Regions from separate parts of the Homo sapiens genome. Here all the other regions are reported to be linked to region 6. The links are microRNA targets in miRTarBase. Many come from high-throughput screens and were not tested one by one. Region 6 holds a microRNA gene; each other region holds the end of a gene's coding sequence.
The links. The annotated mature microRNA hsa-miR-148b-3p reads UCAGUGCAUCACAGAACUUUGU and lies in region 6 at 1,191-1,212, opposite strand. An mRNA with a match to its seed (bases 2 to 7 or 8) in the 3' UTR can be bound and repressed. Matches are read on the target gene's strand: a 7mer-m8 pairs with bases 2 to 8, a 7mer-A1 pairs with bases 2 to 7 and ends in A, and an 8mer does both.

Region 1 (3,083 bases), not on the chromosome of region 6:
TAATTTAAAATGGAAAATAATTCAAGTTGTTAGTTGAAAGAATTAGACACCAGTGTTTTGGTATCTTAACTTTTATTAATGTTGGTTATCACGGTTAATTAATTTAAAATTGTGGTTTATTAATATTTTAAGTTACTCTCATATTATATTTTATTAATTTTTTCTTATTTAAAAAGCTTGTCTCTGCCACTTCCTGTGTGACCTGGGCAAGTCATTTTACCTCTAAGAGCCTCAAATTTCCTCATCTATAAAGTGGAAATATAAATACAAAGCTTGCAGAAATGTCAGGAAAATAAATAAATTAAATGCTAAATAGTCAATGAGGGATATTAGGCAAAGGCCAGTTTTGGTGGCATTTTAACCTATGGAGACTCAGTGCCTCTGTGTGTCCCATTATCACCTCCAAGACATCCTGGCAACACCACCGCTTGGGACTAGCCAGCAGGGAGGCCCAGGACACCTGCCACCTGATAAAGTGGCTCCTGCTCTCTATTGGCTTCTTATGAACACTACTGGGCTCTTACCTATCTATCTTGAAGCCTCTATGGACAAAAAAGAGGCCAAAAGAGGAATGGCACAATGGTATCAACTCAAACGTGTGAGCCCGGCATGGTGGCTCACGCTGGTAATTCCAGCACTTTGGGAGGCACAGGCGGGTGGTTCACTTGAGGTCAAGAGTTTGAGACCAGCCCGGCCAACGTGGGAAAACCCCGTCTCTACTAAAAATACAAAAATCAGCGGGGTGTGGTGGCTGGGCGCCTGTAATATCAGTTACTTGGGAGGCTGAGGCAAGAGAATCACTTGAACGCGGGAGGCGGAGGTTGCAATGAGCCGAGATTGTGCCACTGCACTCCAGCCTGGGCAACAGAGTGAGACTCTGTCTCAAAAAAAAACAACCAAACAACAACAAAAACGTGTGAGAAGGGTGGAATAGGAGCTAAAAGATGTAGGCTCCTTGTTTAGGCAGAGCGTAAAATCACCACACAGAAGGCCGAACTCTGGGCCCCTAACTAGTGCTGCTCCAAGAACTGACTGGGGGAGGCAAAAGGTTCTGGGCAGAAAGGCAGGCTTTTTGTTCTTTTCAGTATCAGAAAATTTCAATCCAAACAACGGTAGCTACTCAAACTAGACGTTTTGAAGTTATATTTAGTTTAAACTATTCTATTTAGAAAATAAACCCTAATATTTATGAACTCTAAATGACAAAATAAGTACACGAATTCACGTAGGAAATTCTTAACCAAAAACATTAAACCTGAATTTGATCACAAGAAAATAATTAGGCCAGGCACTGTGGCTCACACCTATAATCCCAGTACTTTGGGAGGCTAAGGTGGGAGGATCGCTTGAGCCCAGGAGTTTGAGATCAACCTGGGCAACATAGTGAGACCCTGTCTCTACAAAAAATAAACAAAATTAGCCAGGTGTGGTGGGTATGCACCTTGATCCCAGATACTCGGGAGGCTGAGGTGGGAGGATTGCTTGAGCCCTAGAAGTTGAGGCTTCAGTGAGCCAAAATCAAAATTGTGCCACTGCACTCCAGCCTGGAAGACACAGCAAGACCCTCCCTCAACAAAATAATTTTAAAAATTAAAAAAAAAAGACAGAGGAACTTTCTTAGATTGAAAGATATTAAAGAAAAATAACAATTATTTGCAATATGTATGTCAACCTTGATTGATTACTGGAGTGAAAAAAAAACTACATAAAATGCTCTCTAAATAGTTGGGAAAATTTGAATATGGAATATATTAGATGAAATTATTAATTTTTTAGGTATAAAACTGATAAGGTGATTATGTAGAAAAATGTCTTTATTTTAGGGTATGTCAAGTTATAACACCAAAAAGAAACTAGGGGTGAAGTGTCATGATTTTTGCAACTTATTTTCAAATGGTTTAGCAAAACAAGATATATTTTAAAAGTTATAATATTTTATATAGAAACACATACAAAGAGAGGAGAGAGAAAGCAAATGTGACACAATATTAACAATGATTAATATTGTGGTGAAAGATATATAGATGTTCATTGTACCATTCTTTTAACTTCTCTGTAAGTTTGGAAAACTATAATTAAAAAGTTGGGAGAAGTTATATCTATATGCTCCTCTTAAAATATTATATGAAGATATACACTATCATTATTATTATTATTTTTAGAGACAGGGTCTCATTCTGTCACCCAGGCTGCTCACTGCAACCTCAAACTCTCCCAGACTCAAGTGATCCTCCCACCTCAGCCTCCCATGTGGCTGGGATTATAGGCAAGTACTACCATGCCGGGCCAATTTTTTTTTTGTTTGTAGAAATGAGGTCTTGCTATGTTGCCCAGGCTGGTCTCAAACTCCTGGTCTCAAGTGATCCTCCTGCCTCAGCCTCCCGAAGTGCTGGGATAAAAGGTGTGAACCACCATACCCAGCCAGTATTATCTTTTCATTTCATTTTCCAGTTGAGTATATTATTGGCTACATTTGCATACCGCACAATTGTTCATTTTTTAAAAACCAATATTTTGTTTTGTTCTGTTGTCTACAATAAGGAGAATTCAGATGATAAACTTACAACCAATCATGGCCAAGTCCACTTGAGGAATTGTCTCTGTAGATTTATCTGTAGACTCTCTAATAAGGAGTTTTATGGCCGTATGTTTCGTGTTTCCCCTGATGTGCCCTGTTACTGTTCCTCTTGCCATGGTGTTTCTTCCTGTGGCAAACATTTCCTTTACCATTTTTCTTGGCAGCTTGCACTTTCATCCACTGCTTAACAGTATGGTTGTGCGGGCTGACACAGATTCTTCTGCGCTTGACATGAAGGCTGTTAGAAAAGGAAGCAAAAGAAAGTCACTGATATAAAACATATATAAATAATCACTTAGTGACTTACATGCAGCTCCCACTTTGGGACACTGTATTCCTAGAGACTAAATTCAGACTAAATTTCTGAATTAAGTGTAGAAATGAAGTGAATTCTAAAGCTGAGCACCACAAGGTTCAATTTTGACTTTACAAACACTGCTGCCTGTGGGTCCTCAGATATCATCAGAGAGTATTAAAAGAAAGAGAAGGAGAAGAAGGAATTGGA
Region 2 (3,083 bases), not on the chromosome of region 6:
GGAGTAGAATGTGTGAGCCTGCATGTTTTAGAAAAGGCAGGATGGTGACACTAGTGAGGCGGTCCTCTCGCTCTAAAATGCATAGGTTAGAGAAATGGAGAGAGGCTTGGAGGCTGGGGGTGAGTCTCAAGATATGAGATGCCTAGCCTACAGAGATCCCAAAAGGATGTCCCAAAAAGATGCTTCTAAGTGACCTCAAAAGACCTTCCTTCCACTGGACTGCCACAACAGATCACTGAAATTCTGGAGGAGTATACTTTCTTCTTCCTCCCTCCTCTCCTCTGTCCTTCTGAAATTTCCATATTGAGAGAAGCCAAACATTGAGCTGAAACTTGCATCTCCTGCAAATCTAAAAGCAGTAGAAAGGAAAGCAAATATAAAAAAAAAAAGAAATAAAAGAAGAATAGGGGAAACCCAGAAAATAACCTGAAACCATAGGAAAGAGCAGAAGCACAAGACAACAACAGTGGTGGGCCGGATCACTGTGCATCCCTCCAGGAAGGACAAAGCTGATACAGGAAATAATGGTAACTGAGAAATGGAGGTTGCATCCGAGAATACTACTGGAAGAGCCCTCTGATGGAGGAGGTCAGCATGGTCCCTTCCACCCAAGCTCCTTTCTTAGGAGGAGTGGAGAACACTCAGGCCCCATGCTTTGAAAACAAGAGTTGGAAAGGGATTGAACCAAACCATTAGAGCACACAAGATAAGACTGGAGATTTGGAGATTTGTGGAAAAGTGAGACTGGATCTCTGATTCTGTGACAACATTATGCCTTGTTTCAGAAACACAGAGAAAGTCTTGCTTTTTCAACTGAAAAGTGGTAGAGCCTCTACTTTCCTATGCTCAGATCAGTAGTTCTCTTTTGTTATGGGGCTGTTCCAAAGGAGACACATCCGTTAATTTCAAAGAAGACTTACATGGGGGAGAACAGCAGGCATGGAAGGGGAATTGCAGTGTCCCTCTGCTTGTCTCAGGAACATCTAGTTGAAAGCAAACCTAATAGTCTTAGCCAAAGTCCCCAGTGGCAAATCAACCTCCATGCGGAGATTCTTGGTCCAAATGAAAGAACATAAACATGAGAAAAGTGGGCTGGTCTTAACACTCTTTCTATTATCTAACACTTTATTTTACTTGATTTTGTCTTTCTACTGTAATTTAAATGGCAAGATTAAAGGGGAAAAGCCACATAATTGAATTATCAATCACTTGCAGTAAATCCAATTCCAGGGGTCAATGGGACAGAATACAGCAGGTAGCCTGAGGTGTTAATATTTTAACAGTTTATATAATTTTTTAAAGCAATATGCTGGAAAATCCATGTACTCTTTGTGCACACACAGTATGACTTTTATGTGTATCAAATGCACGTGGGGAGTAGCTGCACTTCAAAAATCTTTAAATGTTTTAATCCAAAACAAAAGTACAGATCCAGTCCACATTAAGGACTAACTGCATGTAACATTTAACTTCGTGAATGGATGCAGCATTCAATAGACAGGGTGTGAAAAAAGGCATCCACACAGCTACTAAACATCTTCCCTAGTGCTCTCAAATACTAAAAATGGCTGAAGCAATTTATTCCCACTATGTGGGCTTTCTCTTTTACAACTAAGTTTTATAAATCCCTCAAAATAAGGTATTTAGAATGGAAATCCTCCCTCACTATAGTGGAATTAATAAATGTTACTGATACAGCCGCTTGTGGGGTTGTTTAAATACCTATATACTTAGAGCTATATATAATCAATTCTCAGTTAAAATGGGAAAGAGATGGAACTAATCAACAAACACAGCAACTCATAAATATTCCCCCAACTAATTCTACCCAATTGCTTCAATCTACCATCTATCTAACTTCTTACCAGAACAGATAAAAGTAGCAATGTGGCTGAGTGTCACCAACTGTCCGTCCCTTCTCTCTAACTGCAGTGCGAAACAGCACTGAATGTTCATGAAGGTAGTGGGAGGAGAGGCAAATGTGATAACTGAGAATCGACCATACAGACATAGCCTCCCCCAAAGCACACTTACAGACATGAAGAGCTGAAAACCAAAACTGTGAGCGCCCATTTCATTTATAAGAGCCCCACGTTCCCATTTCTGTTTAACTGTGGAATGCCCTGAACTGAATTGGAGATGGGGGGAACATCAATATTCTGTCATCTATGCTACAGTGCACCCACAAAAGTTTCTTAAACTAGCTATCCATATTCTGATTCTTGTGCCCAATGTGGGAATTAAAATAAAAAACAGAAACCAAAACACAAAACAAAACACTGAGCACATGTAAAGGAGAATTTTAAAAGCTGGAAGTGTAACCCCTTGGTCACAAGCACACCAACTCCTATTTCCTTTGAGCAACAGCAAAACATGTCAAATCCTTTAATTTGACTGCTCTTCTAAAAGAAAGAAGAATATGCACATCACAAATTTACATCGGTTTACTAAAAAGGGGGCGGGGCTTACAGTTTTTTTTTTTTTTTTTAAAAAGAGGGTGGTTTGAGTGTAACAATACTGATTCAAAACTGAAATGGAAGACAGTTTCTCCCTAGAATACTTTAGGGTTTTTCAGAGTCCTTTTCCATAAAAGGAATATAATTGAAACACATCTCAGTTAGGTGAGATGAGATTGCTAAAATACATACAGAACTAAAAAAACAGCCAAAACAAAGTCAGTTTAATCTCTTCAACTCCTATTGATTTCCGTTGGTTGCAGTCTTTTTTTCCTAAAGCCTATTGCATAACTGCAAGGAATTTGCTTTCTTCCGCTAGGGAGGTCAGCAAAGAACTCATGTCCCCGATAGCCATGTTGGTGGTGCTCATGGACAGCGCTGGGAATGGGAGGGACGCCCGAGGCGTGGTGAGGCGGGAGGAGCTATGGGAAAGGTTCTGAATGATACTTGGGCTCAGGGCCCCCGACATCAGGCTGGAGTGGTCCCCATCGTCTATGATGGCATCGAAGTCAATCTGTACCCCTTCCAGGTCATGGCTGTCGAGGCTGTCCACTGTGCTTGTCACCTGATTAGCACCTGGGGAAAGTAACTCAGAGTTTTTGGCGCTGGTCCCCTGTAGCAGGCAGC
Region 3 (3,076 bases), not on the chromosome of region 6:
AATATAACATCCCAGTCAAAGCCTTGATAATATAATCAATGTTTTCAAATGTGTCCTGTTATAAAGAGAGCAGATTCTTACTGAACTTGTGCAAATAGCTTTATTACCATAAACATATGAATACTCATGAATAGATTCCCAATTCTGGGGCACTCAGATAGAGAGCAAAAGGAAATGTTTCAATTTTTGTTTACAAAAGTATACTTTACCAATTGCTCAAGAAAAAATGTTCATAAATCTGGAGAATGAAACATTCCAAGAATCAGCACATTTTCAAATAGAAAATTATGAAATCATTATCCTTTTGATTATTTAGTCCAATAACATTGAGTATTTTTCTTCTTTGTCTTGAATTTCATGAAGGTATCAGCCTGTTCATTAAAATTTTGAAAGTTCTTAGTCCAGTGGTATGATCTTGAAGTTATCAGGAGCTTGTATTCAAGAGTCCTTGTAAGAGACCTTTCCATAAATCTCCTTGAAGAAAAAGCAATTTTGGACTGTAGGTGATTGTAAGTAGTTTGAGGAAGAATCAAAGCAACTGTCTGGGAATGACAGAGATTTAAACTGACTATGGTTAAAAATCTAATGAGAATTTATTATGGTAAAGACACAGCTCACATAGAAATCTAGTTACTTCTGTGGCATATGACACTATGATAACATATTTGATTTTCAGAAATTTCATATAATTTTTAGAATACTCATTAAAAAAATTTTTTTTTCAGATGGAGTCTCACTCTGTCACCCAGACTGGAGTGCAGTGGTGCCATCTGAGTTCACTGCAAGCTCCGCCTCCGCGGTTCATGCCATTCTCCTGCCTCAGCCTCCTGAGTAGCTGGGACTACAGGTGCCTGCCACCACACCCGGCTAATTTTGTTTTTGCATTTTTAGTAGAGATGGGGTTTCACCGTGTTAACCAGGATGGTCTCGATCTCCTGACCTCGTGATCTACCCACCTCGGCCTCCCAAACTCCTGGGATTGCAGGCGTGAGCCATCGCGCTCAGCCTAGAATACTCATATTATTAACATTCCCATAAATATTATTTAGAGAAGGTTTAGCATCACTTATCCCTTATTTGAAAATGCTTTCTATAAATTTAATATATAAAATAAGGTGGCTTTTCCGTTCAGCTTCTGTTTCTCAAGAGGATTACTGAGTTCTTGGTGTAGCCCATTCATAAATAGGGCCAAAAATGTATAGTCTTATGTATGTTGAAAAAGGTCCTTAGGTAATTCCAGTACTTTTAGCTGAAAATCATTGATTTAGTTTTAAGTTCTACCTATTGCAACAGGAGTTCTCCATCCTTGTTACGTGTTAGTAGTGTCAGGGAAGACTTAAAAATTACCAGTGCCTGGGTCCCTCTCCAGACCTTTGAACTGGAACTAATGGGTGGGGCTTGAGCATCCACTTTTAGAAATGTTTTCCAGTGATTCCAATGTGTAGCTCTATTTCCCATCAGATTTCTCTGATTTCTTGTGGCATTCAATTTTTTCTATTTTGGTATCATGATTATTTTCAGGTCTCATTTCCTGTCTTAGGCTTTATGTCTCCTGGGGTAGGGACCTTGCCTTCTTCATTTCTGTATGTTTTTTGAACACATGAACTGATCATCAGGAAAAGATCTCAACCACACATAGGTTGTGTTCTGAGTCTCAGGTTCACATGTTAATCCTAAAGTCTTTGTTCTCCACGAGGTCACATGTTGCTTGTGATGAAGGGTGTGGTTAAGTCTGCAGTGCAGATGGTTGAAGGGATTTCACTCTGTTTTTAGACATAGCATTGGAACTAAGAATTTTATGTCTATATGGGTGAAGGGGCAGGGATGTGTAGGAAGACAGTTCTAATTAGGATGGAGGATTTATACTAGGAAGTAGAGGTAAAGGAAGTGAGAAGCCTTAGTAAATAGAAGAAATGTGAACTTATCAAATAGGCTAGAGTAGACCCCTGCAGATTCTTGATTAAATCAATTAACCAGATTTTAGAAAGGTAATGAGGCAATCATATGCAAGGAAGATTTCAAAGTCTGGAGACAAGAAGTCAAGCAATACTTTGAGAAGTGGTTGAGCTTTATGGGAATGGAGAGAATTACACTATTGAGAGATGTTAAAAATAATGAAGAGGGTTTCACCATGTGAAATTGTGTTTCTCATTTGAATCTGAGAAACAAATGAGCAGAGGCTGGAGATAATTATGTCTAAAAGACAGTGGGGTACAGGGAGCATAAAGGCCAGGGAGAAAGGGAACTGCAGGAATTAGTGCTGAGAAGCAGGAGTTTAGTGGAGGAAGGAGGAGATGCAGTCCCAGATACAGGCAAATAAGTCTTTTCCCTCTCCCAAGCATGGCAGTCAGCTCTGCAGGAACCAGGATAAGAGAAAAGGCCATCATACCTGCCAGTCTTCCTGAAATACAGAAATGACATCACAGCTGCTATGTTGGATTAAGGAGAGGAAGAAGTCCTATTCTTGTAGAAGCTGTCATGGAAAGAAAAGTAAAGAAGGAATGAAGGTGATGTTATTTTACATGGGGGAGCATCAGGAACAAGCATGTAACATGAGGTACTCTATAATTGTTTCTTCAAGGACCACATTATTTCTCTTGGAATATTGATGGGAGATGATTATATTCTTGCAGTTTTTTTTCCCTCTCACCATGTGTCTCGGTTGGTGATCAGTCCTCTGTCAATTCTCTACTGCACTCAGATATTTTGGAAGGCTTTCAGATGTGAGAAAGGCTGATTGCTATTTTCTATGTCATTAGAACTTGCCACATTTTCACCTTTTCATGGTTGCATCTTTTTCTCGGTGTTTCTGTTGTGGCAGTCATGAATGAGACTCTGTCAGGTCTCCATGGCAGGGACCTGATTGGCAGAAGGCCCAGGTCAGTGCATTTCAAATTCACCACCTCTTGTGCACAGAAAGCTTCTTTCCTACAGGCTCCCAGCAAGGGTGTGAAAGCAAGCCTAGTTCTCCGAGGCTCTCTTTAACTCTAATGGGTGACTGGTTGGAGGATTCCTCATCAGCCTTGCAAAAACTCTTAGAACTGCATTGGTACCTAAAACTTCTTTCTCTTTGTTT
Region 4 (3,082 bases), not on the chromosome of region 6:
GACTTAAATTAGAACTCCCCGAGGTTTCAGATATCCAAAAGCTATCTCTGAGCCCTCCACTCGGTAGCCCTTCCCCTATCCGTGGTGAATCAAGACTACTTCTAGTCACCGCACACACAGCCACATCTCCTCGGTAAACACACTCTCCTTTTTGTTCCTGGCAGTGCTGGTGTTGCTCATTTTGTCCATGAGGCGGCACCGGAAACAACCATACATCATCGACGACGAGGAAAACATCCACGAGAACATCGTCCGCTACGACGACGAGGGCGGCGGCGAGGAGGACACCGAGGCCTTCGACATCGCGGCCATGTGGAACCCCCGGGAGGCGCAGGCGGGGGCCGCCCCCAAGACGCGGCAGGACATGCTGCCCGAGATCGAGAGCCTCTCCCGCTACGTGCCTCAGACGTGCGCAGTGAACAGCACTGTCCACAGCTACGTGCTGGCCAAGCTCTACGAGGCCGACATGGACCTGTGGGCACCGCCCTTCGACTCCCTCCAGACGTATATGTTCGAGGGGGACGGCTCTGTGGCGGGGTCGCTGAGCTCCCTGCAGTCGGCCACGTCGGACTCGGAACAGAGCTTCGACTTCCTGACGGACTGGGGGCCCCGCTTCCGGAAGCTGGCCGAGCTCTACGGGGCGTCGGAGGGACCCGCGCCGCTGTGGTGACGGAAGCCAGGAGGCAGGCGCGCGTCCAAATCCAGACGTTCTCCGCGGGTGCTTCGCGGACAAGGTGCAGCCAACCACACGAGCAATACTGTGCTGGAGAGTGAGAATGGGGGTGAGCAGGCGAACAGAGCTCTCTCTGGATCAGCTTTACTTGGGTAGATTAAGTTAAATAAGCAAAAGGAAACCCAGAAGGAAGAGGGCAGAATCTTTAATTACCTTTTTTTCTTTTCTTTTTGATTTTTCTGACACTGTGTGCGAAGGCTTGGAGTCCAAGGTGTTCTGACAAGGGTGGCTTTTCTCTGCCATTCGCTAAGGCCTTTGTCACTTTTCCACCACAGAAAGGCTCTGGCCTTGGATACAGAGATGCCAATTGAAAGCAGAAAGTTCTACTCTCGTATCTGTTTTTTATCTTATCTTATTCTCCATTTAAGAGTTTTGCTGGCTCAAACCACAGAAACCAACCCACAAGAAAGAACAAAAAACTTGTTACTCAGTGAAATTAACCTACTTGTTCTGGGATGGATGGAATTTCCCGTAACCCTTTTGAGACAAGGTTAAGACTGAATCAGCCTTGCATGGGGGTGGATGGGTGGGAGGGTGGGTGAAGGAAGAGACATTGACTTTATGCTCAAGTTTAGTGGCTGAACCAAGAGATGTTGGCATTACAGCTCATCCAACGCCATCAAGTTAGAGTGCTCGTGTCTCCTCTCAGCTATTTAACTGTGCCCCTGCAAAATTGTTCAGAATGAAACCAGAAAAATCTGCCTCTTTTGCACTGTAGATGTCTCTTCCATGTGCCAAATGTGGAGATTAGATGCTACAAATGAAAGCCAAATAAAAAAGAAGTATCTGACAAAAGCATGGGTTAGAGGGCTTTCCTAATCTGTGTGAGGTCAATCCAAGGGATGTTTACATACTGTAGATAACCTACTTGAACAAAAATCAGTATTATAGAGAATAAATGGATGTAAGAAAATTACATGTACAAGTTTTGTATATTTGTTAATAATTTTGGTAATAAATATGATGTACTGCATCTCAGTACCTTAGCACTTCTTTTAATAAAAGTTAAATAGAAGGAAAAGTCTATTGTGAATTTGTTTAATTGCTGAACAGGTAGAAGATGACTTTGTAATCCTGATCTAGCCTCAGGCTCCCGGGGTTGGGGCTAATTTGTAAGGCAAAAGCAATGGAAAAGAAGTGTGAGGCTGCATTCTGTTTCAGTAGCTAACCATATGAACATTATGGTTCAAACTGTTAAGCTTTTAATGAACACCCTCCATTTCTTCATCCCTGAAAAGAGCAAAGGGTGGTTTGGTAATATCAACTATACAATGGTGAATTTAGCCCATATTTTTCATTTTGCAAAAGGTTATTACACATAGCCCCCAATGAGGCAGGCTACTGTGCTACTTACATCTCTATTTCATTGGCAAATTGAGCTCACAGATGGTTGAAACCATATTTTATTCATCTTTCCTTTTGCTACAATAGCTAGCATACTCTTCTGCATACAGTAGGTGCTTAACACTTCTTGGCTACATGATGGGAGGGATCTCTATTTGACATTCTATTACTAAAAAATATTTTACACAACTATCCTCACAACTGAGGACAAATTGTGAACAAAATCATTCCCTGAGAGCCTTGATTATAGCAACAGTTCTCAAATTTTAATGTATCAGAATCACGTGAAGAAATTGTTAAACTACCTCACCCCTAGAATTTATGATTCAGTCGATTTGGGGCAGTTTGTATTTCTAACATGTTCCCAGGAGATGCTGATGCTGCTGGTCCAGGAACCACATTTTGAAAACCTCTGATATGTAGTTACTCACTCTCTAACACATGAAGATTAAACTATGTCCCATCTGTACTGGGTCCCATCTTCCCGCAGAGTGGTGTTGTGAATTGTTTTCTCAGTAAAACATGAACAGTTTACAGAAATGTAAGGAAAGCTGATGAGGGTCTGGGAGGCAGTAGGATGTGCTTTTTTGCATATTACACATTACATGGTACCATTACATGGTACATTAACAGCCACCAAATTCTCTTCAGCCTTCAGCATACTAACCCTTTCTTCCCATGAAAGGCAGGCAGCTCTCACACATCCTCTTCAAGGATAGAGTGCAATGTAAAAATAAATACATTTAACAAAGCAAAAGAAAAAGCATGGACTTGAGTCCAAACTAGGCTTTACAATATACCAATTATATGGATGTAGGCAAATCAACCTCTATAACATTCTTCCTTCCTACCACAGCCCTGAGGATAATTTTGTGAGTATTTCACTTTGTACTGCTTATGTTACAACTGAGAACAGCTGTTATCCTAACCACAGGGCGTTATCATGCCCCACATCCTGCAAATGTGGTCCCCATGATATTGGGCATGAAGTAATTAAACAAAATC
Region 5 (3,083 bases), not on the chromosome of region 6:
CTTAATGTATAAGCCTTTCGCTTCTTGGGTTAAATTTATCCCTTGGCATTTTATTTGTCTTTATGCTACTGTAAATGAAAGTGATTTAAAATTTTTTTTTGGACTGTCATTGCTGATGTATAGAAATACAGTTGATTTTTGTGTATTGTAACCTACATCTTCGCTGAATTTATTAGCTGTAGTGGCTTCCTTGTAAATTCCTTAGGGTTTTCCACATGTAGGTTTATGCCATCTGTGAAAAGAGATAGTTTTACTTCTTTCTTGCCAGTTTGGATCTATTCTTGACAATCTTGCATAATGTAAATCCAAATGTTTCCATTTTTAATGGTCATTTTCTTAAAGTGATTTTGAAAACTGTTTAAGTTTCCAATTGATATAGTATATATTGAAAGGAAATATGTAACTGTTTCTTAACTTAGGTTGTTTTTTTTTTTCCCATAGATTTGGCTAGCTGATTGGCTGCTGAAAAATAATCCTAACAAACCCAAACTTTGTCACCATCCAATTGTAGAAGAACCTTATTAAAAAAAAAATCCTCGAAAGAACAAATCATGAACTATCTTATTATAAAAGGCTGTACTTCTACTGTTTGAAAAAATTATTTCTAGGGTTTAAGTAACTACAAGTAAAATAAATTTATTTCTTAAAAATAAGTGTTAAAGGAATAACTATTCTATGAAGCAGATAACATTAAGGTAAAATATAGGCTTAGAGTATGATTTTAACAATGATGTAACACTAGGTAATGGAAAACTCATGTAAGATGTTGCTAGATGTTTTTGTTTTTCTTAAGTTTGAGAAGTAAGACATAAAGTTTAGTTATACATTTTCCCAAGCACATATCCTATATCTAAATACATAATTAATGCACAGTTGAGACAGTCTAGTTTAAAAGGCTTAGGTCCTTTTGTAGTCCATAAGCATGGTGATTTGGTTTCATGCTCATGTGTCAGATATGCTTCCCTCAAACCTTGTTACAGCATCATCACATTACCTGTTTGATGTAAAAAATAAAAAATAGAAAGGTGTAAGTATATAAGTAATTTTTTGGTACAATGAAAATGGCCAGAACCAGGGGATGATCTTAAACTAATCACTTGGATAACTATTAGGCTGGTGCAAAAGCAATTATGGTTTTTGTCATTAAAAAACAATGGCAAAAACCACAATCACGGCCGGTCTTGGTGGCTCACGCCTCTAATCCCAGCACTTTGGGAGGCCGAGGCGGGTGGATCACGAGGTCAGGAGATCGAGACCATCCTGGCTAACACGGTGAAACCCCGTCTCTACTAAATATACAAACAATTAGCCGGGCGTAGTGGCGGCGCCTGTATTCCCAGCTACTCGGGAGGCTGAGGCAGGAGAATGGCGTGAACCCAGGGGGCGGAGCTTGCAGTGAGCCGAGATCGCACCACTGCCCTCCAGCCTGGGTGACAGAGCGAGACTCTGTCTCAAAAAAAAAAAAAAAAAAAAAGAGAAAAGAAAGTATAATGTAAGAAAATGTGAAAACAGAAAGATTGTTAGCTGAAAAAAAGTATGTTACAAAGCAATATGCACAGTGTACGCCCATTTGGTTTTGGTTTGGTTTTGGTTTTTTTTGTTTGTTTTAATAAGATAGGGTCCCGCTATGTTGCCCAGGCTGGTCTCAAACTCCTGGGCTCAAGCAATCCTCCTGCTTCGCCCTCCCAAAGTGTTAGGTTTATAGGCATGAGCCATTGTGCCCAGCCATGTGTTCTCATTTAGATTAAAAAATGAATAAATAAATGTGTATAGAATAACATGTAGAAGGATACCCACTCAAGTGTTTTTATCTATAATCTCTGGATGGTAGAAATATTTTATTTTTCTTCTTTTGCTTAGCTGTATTTTAAATTTTTCTACAGCATTTATGTAACTACTTTTGTGATTAAAAGAAACATTAAGATTACGAAAAATAAGCCGGGCGCGGTGGCTCAAGCCTGTAATCCCAGCACTTTGGAAGGCCAAGGCGGGCGGATCACGAGGTCAGGAGATCGAGACCATCCTGGCTAACACGGTGAAACCCGGTCTCTACTAAAAATACAAAAAAAATTAGCTGGGCGCGGTGGCAGAGGCGCCTGTAGTCCCAGCTATTCGGGAGGCTGAGGCAGGAGAATGGCGTGAACCCGGGAGGCAGAGCTTGCAGTGAGCCGAGATCGCGCCACTGCACTCTAGCCAGGGCGACAGAGCGAGACTACGTCTCAAAAAAAAAAAAAAAAAAGATTACGAAAAATAAATGTTGTAACAAATGTCAGCTTTAAAGGGCTGGCAACACTTCCTTATTAATAGACTGTGTTTAAGCTGTCAGTGGCTAAGATGTTTTGCAAGTTCTCACTGTTGGTATTTTTCTGAAGTTTTGGACATATTCCTTCTGAGACTGTGTGCCCACTGTATTTCAAAACACCTTTAGCATCAGTGTTGGGAGAACAAACCAAAATCTTAAAAATAAAGATAAATAATAAATTGTTATATTTTTTAGCAATGACCAAGGACATATAGGAAAAAGCAAATCATTTTTACAGTAGGATTCCAGTGTGACAGCTTTAGGAGGTCATTTCCACATTCAAAGCCTCTGTCATGGAGGAAAGAAAAAAAAGAAAGAAAAAAAAAGGCAGCACTGTGTATAGCAAAAAATTCCAACTGGGTGTGGTGGCTCACGCCTATACTCCCAGCACTTTGGGAGGCCAAAGCAGGAGGATCACTTGAGGCCAGGAGTTCAAGACCAGCCTGGGCAACATAGCAAAACCACGTCTCCACAAAAAGTATAAAAATTAGCTAGGTGTAGTGGCCTGCACTTCTGTTCCCAGCCACTTTGGAAGCTGAGGCGGGAGGATTGCTTGAGCCCAGGAGGTCAAGGCTGCGGTAAGCCATAATCACACCAGTGCTCTCCAGCCTGTCTAAAAATATCAAACAAACAAACAAAAAAGATGGCCGGGCTCGGTGGCTCACACCTGTAATCCCAGCACTTTGGGAGGCCAAGGCGGGTGGATCACGAGGTCAGGAGTTTGAGACGAGCCTGGGCAGCATGGTGAAACCCCGTCTCTACTAAAAATACAAAAAATTAG
Region 6 (3,083 bases):
GGAATAAACAAGGCATGAGTAACTCCTCTCTCAAACTAAAGAACTTTGTTGCCTAGTGGAGGGAAGTCCTCTAGAGTCTAGTCTTAAAAGGTCACAAGTAGAAGCAGCTCTCCTAACTCCTAATTCCTCACAGAAAGATCTTCCTGTAAAGCAGGCTCAGTTCTATAACAACTTGGGTCCTCAATTCCAAAAGGGAGACAACAATGGGAATGAGTTTTCTTAATGGAAGAAAAGAAGTCCAAAAGGAACAAAATTTAGACGAAATCATTTTTTCCCACAACCTTTTCCTGGAAATCTTTGGCTCTGTTCCTCTATCCACATTCACAGCAACTTTAGAGAGCTGCCCATTAGTTTAAGCTGGGCATTAACCTGGCATAGGAAACTGGTTCTTGCAGCCATAGAGTTTGGCATCCCTAGAACCCAAAGAAAAGCAAAGCCCTAATGGCCCCCAGCCAACTGGGAGAGTCAGACAATGTCCTTTGTGGCCAACAGGGTGTGAGTGCCTACAACAGCCACACCGGCAAAGAGAGAACATATCCCTGGGTTCTGCTCTTGGTTCTTTTCACTGGCTTCCTAGAAGACATTATCAAAGAAACCCCAAAAATAGAAACATTGGATCTTCCTGGGAAGAATAAAAGACAGGCTAAGGAGGACAAGGATAAAGACTAGATTTGACATAGAGCTTACTGGAGCTCTCAAAAGGGAAAGAAGGCATTACAGAAAAGGCTGGTCATTTCAAACTTCCAAAGGAGGAAGCATACTAAATAAAGCTGAGAATTTAGGCAGGCGCTTAAATGCCGCTTCAATTCTCCATTCTGCTACAGCTGGAGCCAGCAGCTTCTTTACTTCTCCTGCCACCTCCTGACTGCAGCTGGTTCCACTTCAGCCTGGGGCTTTTACCTCTCAGGAGTGGGGAGGGCTATGCCATAAAACTAGCCAGTTTAAAGGCCCCAGAAGTCATTACTGATAATGTAATTTCATTTTAAGTTTTTGCAAAGGGCAAGTTTATAAATAACTCCCAGCTACTGAGAAATGGGCTTCCAGGACAATGGACTAGGCTTGACCTTGTAACACATTAAATGCTGACTGTTGAGAAAGACCTTATCAGCTTAGGGCCACACTGAAAGAATTTAAAAGGTCTATTCTTCCCTCCCACTCCCAAAATGGGTAGCTGCTAGAAAGCTTTCGAGACAAAGTTCTGTGATGCACTGACTTTCAGAGAGCCACAGCCTGAGTGTATAACAGAACTTCACCTCAAATGCTAATCGTGCTTGGAAATGATGTATAGGCAGATTGTTTTGTGGGAGATTGGGTGACTTAGACAGATTTTCATGTATTTATGTTTTTATTATCAAGAAAACAAGAATGCTGTCCTCAAGACAGGTGAAACACCACAGAACAAGCAACTAGGCTGCTGCAAATGAATCTTTGATCTCAGGGGCTTCTTTTTTTTTTTTTTTTTTTTTTTTTGCGACAGTCTCTCTCTGTCACCCAGGCTGGAGTGCAGTGGAGCAAACTCCGCTCACTACAACCTCCACCTCCCGGATTCAAGTGATTCTTGTGCCTCAGCCTCCCGGGTAGCTGGGACTACAGGCACACACCCCCATGCCCAGCTAATTTTTGTATTTTTAGTAGAGACGGGGTTTCACCAAATTGGCCAGGCTGGTCTCGAACTCCTGACCTCATGATCTGCCTGCCTCGGCCTCCCAAAGTGCTGGGATTACAGGCGTGAGCCACCGTGCCCGGCCTCAATCAGGGGCTTCTAAAGCCTGGTGAAAAGCATCAACATCTCCAAGAACTCTCTCCCCTAGCGCATAGAGGACTAGAGGGAAAGAGTCATTCCTAGTGCTGCCCCCTGTGGGCCTTCTCGGTGACCTGCAGCTTCCACAGGATTACAGTCATAAGCAAAAATATTTTTCAAAGGCAGCTCTGGATAAGAGCTTTTTTTTTTTTGAGACGGAGTCTCGCTCTGTCGCCCAGGCTGGAGTGCAGTGGCACGATCTCAGCTCACTGCAAGCTCCGCCTCCTGGTTCAAGCTCTCCTGCTTCAGCCTCCCGAGTAGCTGGGACTACACGCACCTGCCACCATGCCCGGCTAATTTTTTGTATTTTTAGTAGGGATGGGGTTTCACTGTAGCCAGGATGGTCTCAATCTCCTGACCTCGTGATCCGCCCGCCTCGGCCTCCCAAAGTGCTGGGATTACAGGCGTGAGCCACCGCACCCGGCAAAAGCTCTCTATTTGTGTGTCTTGTAGGACAAACTAGTAGAGATGGGCCCTGAAAAATAAGTGAATTAAGTCTGTTCACAATGTATATAGTAAGAGAACTCTTTGGGGTAAGATCTTAGTAAGCCACCAGAAGACTGGGAGAATATGTTTGGGGAAGGTAGAGAGGATACTTGGAAACTATAATGAATTATTTGATTCATTTAGGGGAAAAAACCAAGAAGCCTCTATGGAGGGAATTACAGGATGCCATCTACAGAGCTGAAAGAGCACAAATAAGAATATGGAGGCCAGGCGCAGTGGCTCATGCCTGTAATCCTAGCACTTTTGGAAGCTGAGGCAGGAGATCACTAGAGCCAGGAGTTCAAGACCAACCTGGGCAACACAGTGAGACCCTGTCTCTGCAAGAACTTAAAAAAAACAAAAATTAGCCAGGCATGGTGGCATGCACCTGTAGTCTCAGCTACTCAGGAAGCTGAGGCAGGAGGATCGCTTGAGCTTGGGAGTTCAAGGCTGTAGTGAGCTACAATTGCGCTACTGCACTCCAGCCTACACAAAAGAGTGAGACCGCCTCAAAAAAAAAAAGAAGCTGACTGAGATCACTAAAAAGTTCTTCATTGTCTACTTAAAAATAAATCCTTCCAGCCTGGCCAACATGGTGAAACCCTGTCTCTACCAAAATTACAAAACTTAGCCAGGCATGGTAGCAGACGCCTGTAATCCCAGCTACTCAGGAGGCTGAGGCAGGAGAATCGCTTATACCTGGGAGGCAGAGGTTGCGGTGAGCTGAGATCGCACCACTGCACTCCAGCCTGGGCGACAGAGCAAGACTTCAGATCAAAAAAAAAAAAAACATTCC
Region 7 (3,083 bases), not on the chromosome of region 6:
ACTAAGTCACAGAGCACCACTAATAGGTCATAGACAAATGAGGTAAAGAGTCACAGCTGACACGAGCCCTTTCGAAATTGCAAACATGCCGTTCTGTGATCTCCCTGGAAGAGAATAATTACAAAAAGACTTCTCATGGAACAATTCATTTCAAAAGTATAAAAAAGCCACATGCAAATCCGTTTCTCACTGTTTGCCCTGCTAAAAACTACATCTGCATACAGATCTAGTTTGCATCTAATTTTTAAAAACACACAAAAGGGGTCATCTACACACACAGGTTTTCCAACTCTTCATGAAGCACAAAGATCCGTTATTTGACTTTTCCATCATCCCATGATCAATGTTTCTAAGACCCTAGGAAGAAAAGGAGAGAAAGAATTAGAGAACGTAAGCCTGCTCCGTTACAATCAACTATGTGTTACATGGAAGGTGGGGGAAATGATCCTTCACTTCGAATCTCTCCCCAGCAGGAAATGGTGCCAGTGGAGAGTGAAGGGCCCTGTGGAGTCCCAAGAAGTACTTTTAAGACCAAAAGGTGGACGTTTCAAAGCAGCAGACTCCAGCTTAATAAGATCTTTTCAACCATTGGAAAATCCACAGATGGCTCTCAGTGGTAGTGAGCTCTGTATCCCTGGAGGTATGTAAGCCAGAGCTGGCAATACTGTGTGTCACAGAAGGAACTCAAGACCTAGGCAGCAGTGATGCTCTTAAAATTCCACAATTTTTCATGGTATCCTTTTGATGTATTCACAACCCAGAATCATTTCTGCCTCAAAATATACGTGTATTTGAAAATTATAGATATATATATTTAAAACTGGAAACATATCTATATAAAACAAGTCACATATCATCAGGAAGACAATTTTAAGACCCAATCTCCTAACTCTTTGTTGAATTCCTATTTCACAGTTTTACATTTTCATATTTTTCTCCCCATTTCTAGGGCCTCTAACTACTCACGTACACCCATCCTTCAATCCTCATGCCACCTCCTCGATGATTCTTCCTTCATTTTCCCCAGTTCTAAGCTGCTTTTCATGCCTTAATATCTCCTCCCATTCCCTTACATCGCACTCCTTGTATTATAATTATGTCCACTTTTTGTTTTTCTGTGATCCCCTACAGACCAGAAGTAAGGCCTTGCACACAGAAGGTGTGCAACAGTAGTGGCTGAAAGAATAATATAACTAAAACCATGGCAAAATCCCCCTGCTTTTGAGAAACCCTATCAGACTTGTTTCTAATTTTTCCTGTTCTATTAAGCACCTGTTGATCAGCCTTGGTAATGGTGCCTGTTCACCACTGCTCCCCCATTCCTGTAAGAGGATCGTGCAGGCCAGGCACGGTGGCTCACGCCTGTAATCCCAGTACTTTGGGATGCCAAGGCGGGCGGATCATGAAGTCGGGAGATCAAGACCATCCTGGCTAACACGGTGAAACCCCGTCTCTACTAAAAATACAAAAAAATTAGCCAGGTGTGGTGGCGGGTGCCTGTAGTCCCAGCTACTCGGGAGGCTGAGGCAGGAGAGTGGCGTGAACCCAGGAGGCAGAGCTTGCAGTGAGCCGAGATCGCACCACTGCACTCCAGCCTGGGTGACAGAGTGAGACTCTGTCTCAAAAAAAAAAAAAAAAAATGATTGGTCTGTAAATGGGCGGGGCACACATCACATCCGAGCAGAAACTTTAAATGCAATGGTGTGTGCAGCCTGGCCACAGAACGGACATGTTCCACACTGGAGCTGTTCCTCCAGCTGGGTCCTGAATGAGGGGACACATGGGGCAGGGCCACAGCCAGCTCACAGCTATAACATGGAACATGAGCAAGTGATCAACGTCTGTGGCTGTGAACCAGCAAGATTTTGGGATTTTTATGAGCAAAAGCTGGCTTATAAAGTGATCCCTTTCCCGAATTCCCAGTTCACCTGTAGGCAAGGAACAGATGCAACCCCAGCTGTCACCTGTGTGACTACAGACTAGGAGGCCTTGACCAGAGGGGATGCAGAGATTCTCTCTGCCCCTACCCACAAGGAGATGTGTTGCAAAGCAGCACACAGTGCTGAGGACAGGAAGGCAAGGCCTGAGCCCCAGGAAGGAAGCTCAGGTGTCCTGAACAAGGAAGAGCTCCAGGAACACACAAAGGAAGCTCAGGCATCTTCTTTGTGGGAACATTTTCACATGGACGCTGTCACAATGACACTGTCTGCTACCTCTCTCAGTGCTCTTTCTAGAAGAATACAGAGGAAATATTCCCTCCAGCCCCAAAACACAACTGGTCTTTTCATCTCATGGACACACATCATGTTCACAGCTCTTGTCTTTGCATGCTAAGAAGCTCAGAGGGAGATGTGTGCAGAATATACCAGGGATTCTACTGCTCATCTAAGTATGTCCCTACTCTTCTTTTGCTCTTTCCCTGGTTTCCTCCATTTACGTATTTTTCTTCTTTTTTTTACAGGTCTTATAAGCCACCTCAAATATCTCATAACATGGGTGTAAAATACTGAAAATGACTTAGAACATGTACATTTCTCCATCACATGCGGTCATCGGGAGCTGGGAAGTGGAAGCTCCTGTATTTACTCAGATCTAGAACCGTCACTGTGCTGTGGGACTCAGCCTCTCCCACCATGTTGGCTGCATGGCACTGGTACACACCCTCATCCTCCTTTCGCAGGGGGTTGATCTAGAAATACAACAGGCAAGTTTATACAGTTATATAAGGAACAGCAAAATGACTTCCTTAGTTAGTTCTTAATGATAAGTCTGCACACTTCCTCCTTTTCAGAATAAGGTAAAACTTGCTCTATTTCTCTCCTTGCATTGGCTGCCAAGGAGCACGCAGGTAAATTTCCTTCCCAGGGACCCTCTTGAAAGGCACGCTCCCTATTGTGGCTCTCATCTGAATGATTCCTCCGCACACCTGCCTTTTACTGTGAGCTACCTGGTCTTTTGTATTAAAGGTGCAAGGTATAGGTTATTTGGAAAACACCTCAAGTTAAAAGAAGAACAAAAATCTACTGACCAAAGAATGATCCAGAAAGTATTCCCTATAGGGGCAGCCTCTACAAAATACCACC

Region 1: miRTarBase lists CCL28 as a target of hsa-miR-148b-3p. Seed matches in the 3' UTR shown: 7mer-A1 at 373-379.
Region 2: the mRNA of GLI3 is a reported target of hsa-miR-148b-3p. Seed matches in the 3' UTR shown: 7mer-m8 at 2,175-2,181.
Region 3: miRTarBase lists PSG2 as a target of hsa-miR-148b-3p. The part of its 3' UTR that is shown has no 7-base or 8-base seed match.
Region 4: the mRNA of CDH20 is a reported target of hsa-miR-148b-3p. Seed matches in the 3' UTR shown: 7mer-m8 at 1,442-1,448.
Region 5: the mRNA of NME5 is a reported target of hsa-miR-148b-3p. The part of its 3' UTR that is shown has no 7-base or 8-base seed match.
Region 7: miRTarBase lists IGFBPL1 as a target of hsa-miR-148b-3p. The part of its 3' UTR that is shown has no 7-base or 8-base seed match.

What each region holds. Positions count from the first base shown.
Region 1 is chr5:43,379,237-43,382,319 of GRCh38, forward strand. CCL28 (C-C motif chemokine ligand 28) reads right to left here. Exons shown (of 3, transcript NM_148672.3): 3 at 1-2,816. The coding sequence ends at 2,624. Among named protein-coding and RNA genes, the nearest start is that of CCL28, 32 kb to the right of the region's middle.
Region 2 is chr7:41,961,594-41,964,676 of GRCh38, forward strand. It overlaps GLI3 (GLI family zinc finger 3), which reads right to left. Exons shown (of 15, transcript NM_000168.6): 15 at 1-3,083. The coding sequence ends at 2,737. Among named protein-coding and RNA genes, the nearest start is that of INHBA, 260 kb to the left of the region's middle.
Region 3 is chr19:43,064,128-43,067,203 of GRCh38, forward strand. It overlaps PSG2 (pregnancy specific beta-1-glycoprotein 2), which reads right to left. Exons shown (of 6, transcript NM_031246.4): 5 at 2,390-2,473; 6 at 82-474. The coding sequence ends at 2,430. Among named protein-coding and RNA genes, the nearest start is that of PSG2, 17 kb to the right of the region's middle.
Region 4 is chr18:61,554,026-61,557,107 of GRCh38, forward strand. CDH20 (cadherin 20) reads left to right here. Exons shown (of 12, transcript NM_031891.4): 12 at 165-1,754. The coding sequence ends at 670. Among named protein-coding and RNA genes, the nearest start is that of LINC01544, 190 kb to the right of the region's middle. RefSeq lists an enhancer at 61-568.
Region 5 is chr5:138,113,123-138,116,205 of GRCh38, reverse strand. It overlaps NME5 (NME/NM23 family member 5), which reads left to right. Exons shown (of 6, transcript NM_003551.3): 6 at 442-1,031. The coding sequence ends at 525. It overlaps LOC124901208 (small nucleolar RNA U13), which reads left to right and starts at 902; the gene lies at 902-1,004.
Region 6 is chr12:54,335,407-54,338,489 of GRCh38, reverse strand. It overlaps MIR148B (microRNA 148b), which reads right to left and starts at 1,274; the gene lies at 1,176-1,274. The region is part of intron 1 of COPZ1 (coat protein complex I subunit zeta 1); the gene reads right to left.
Region 7 is chr9:38,408,861-38,411,943 of GRCh38, forward strand. IGFBPL1 (insulin like growth factor binding protein like 1) reads right to left here. Exons shown (of 5, transcript NM_001007563.3): 4 at 2,531-2,689; 5 at 1-357. The coding sequence ends at 2,540. Among named protein-coding and RNA genes, the nearest start is that of IGFBPL1, 14 kb to the right of the region's middle.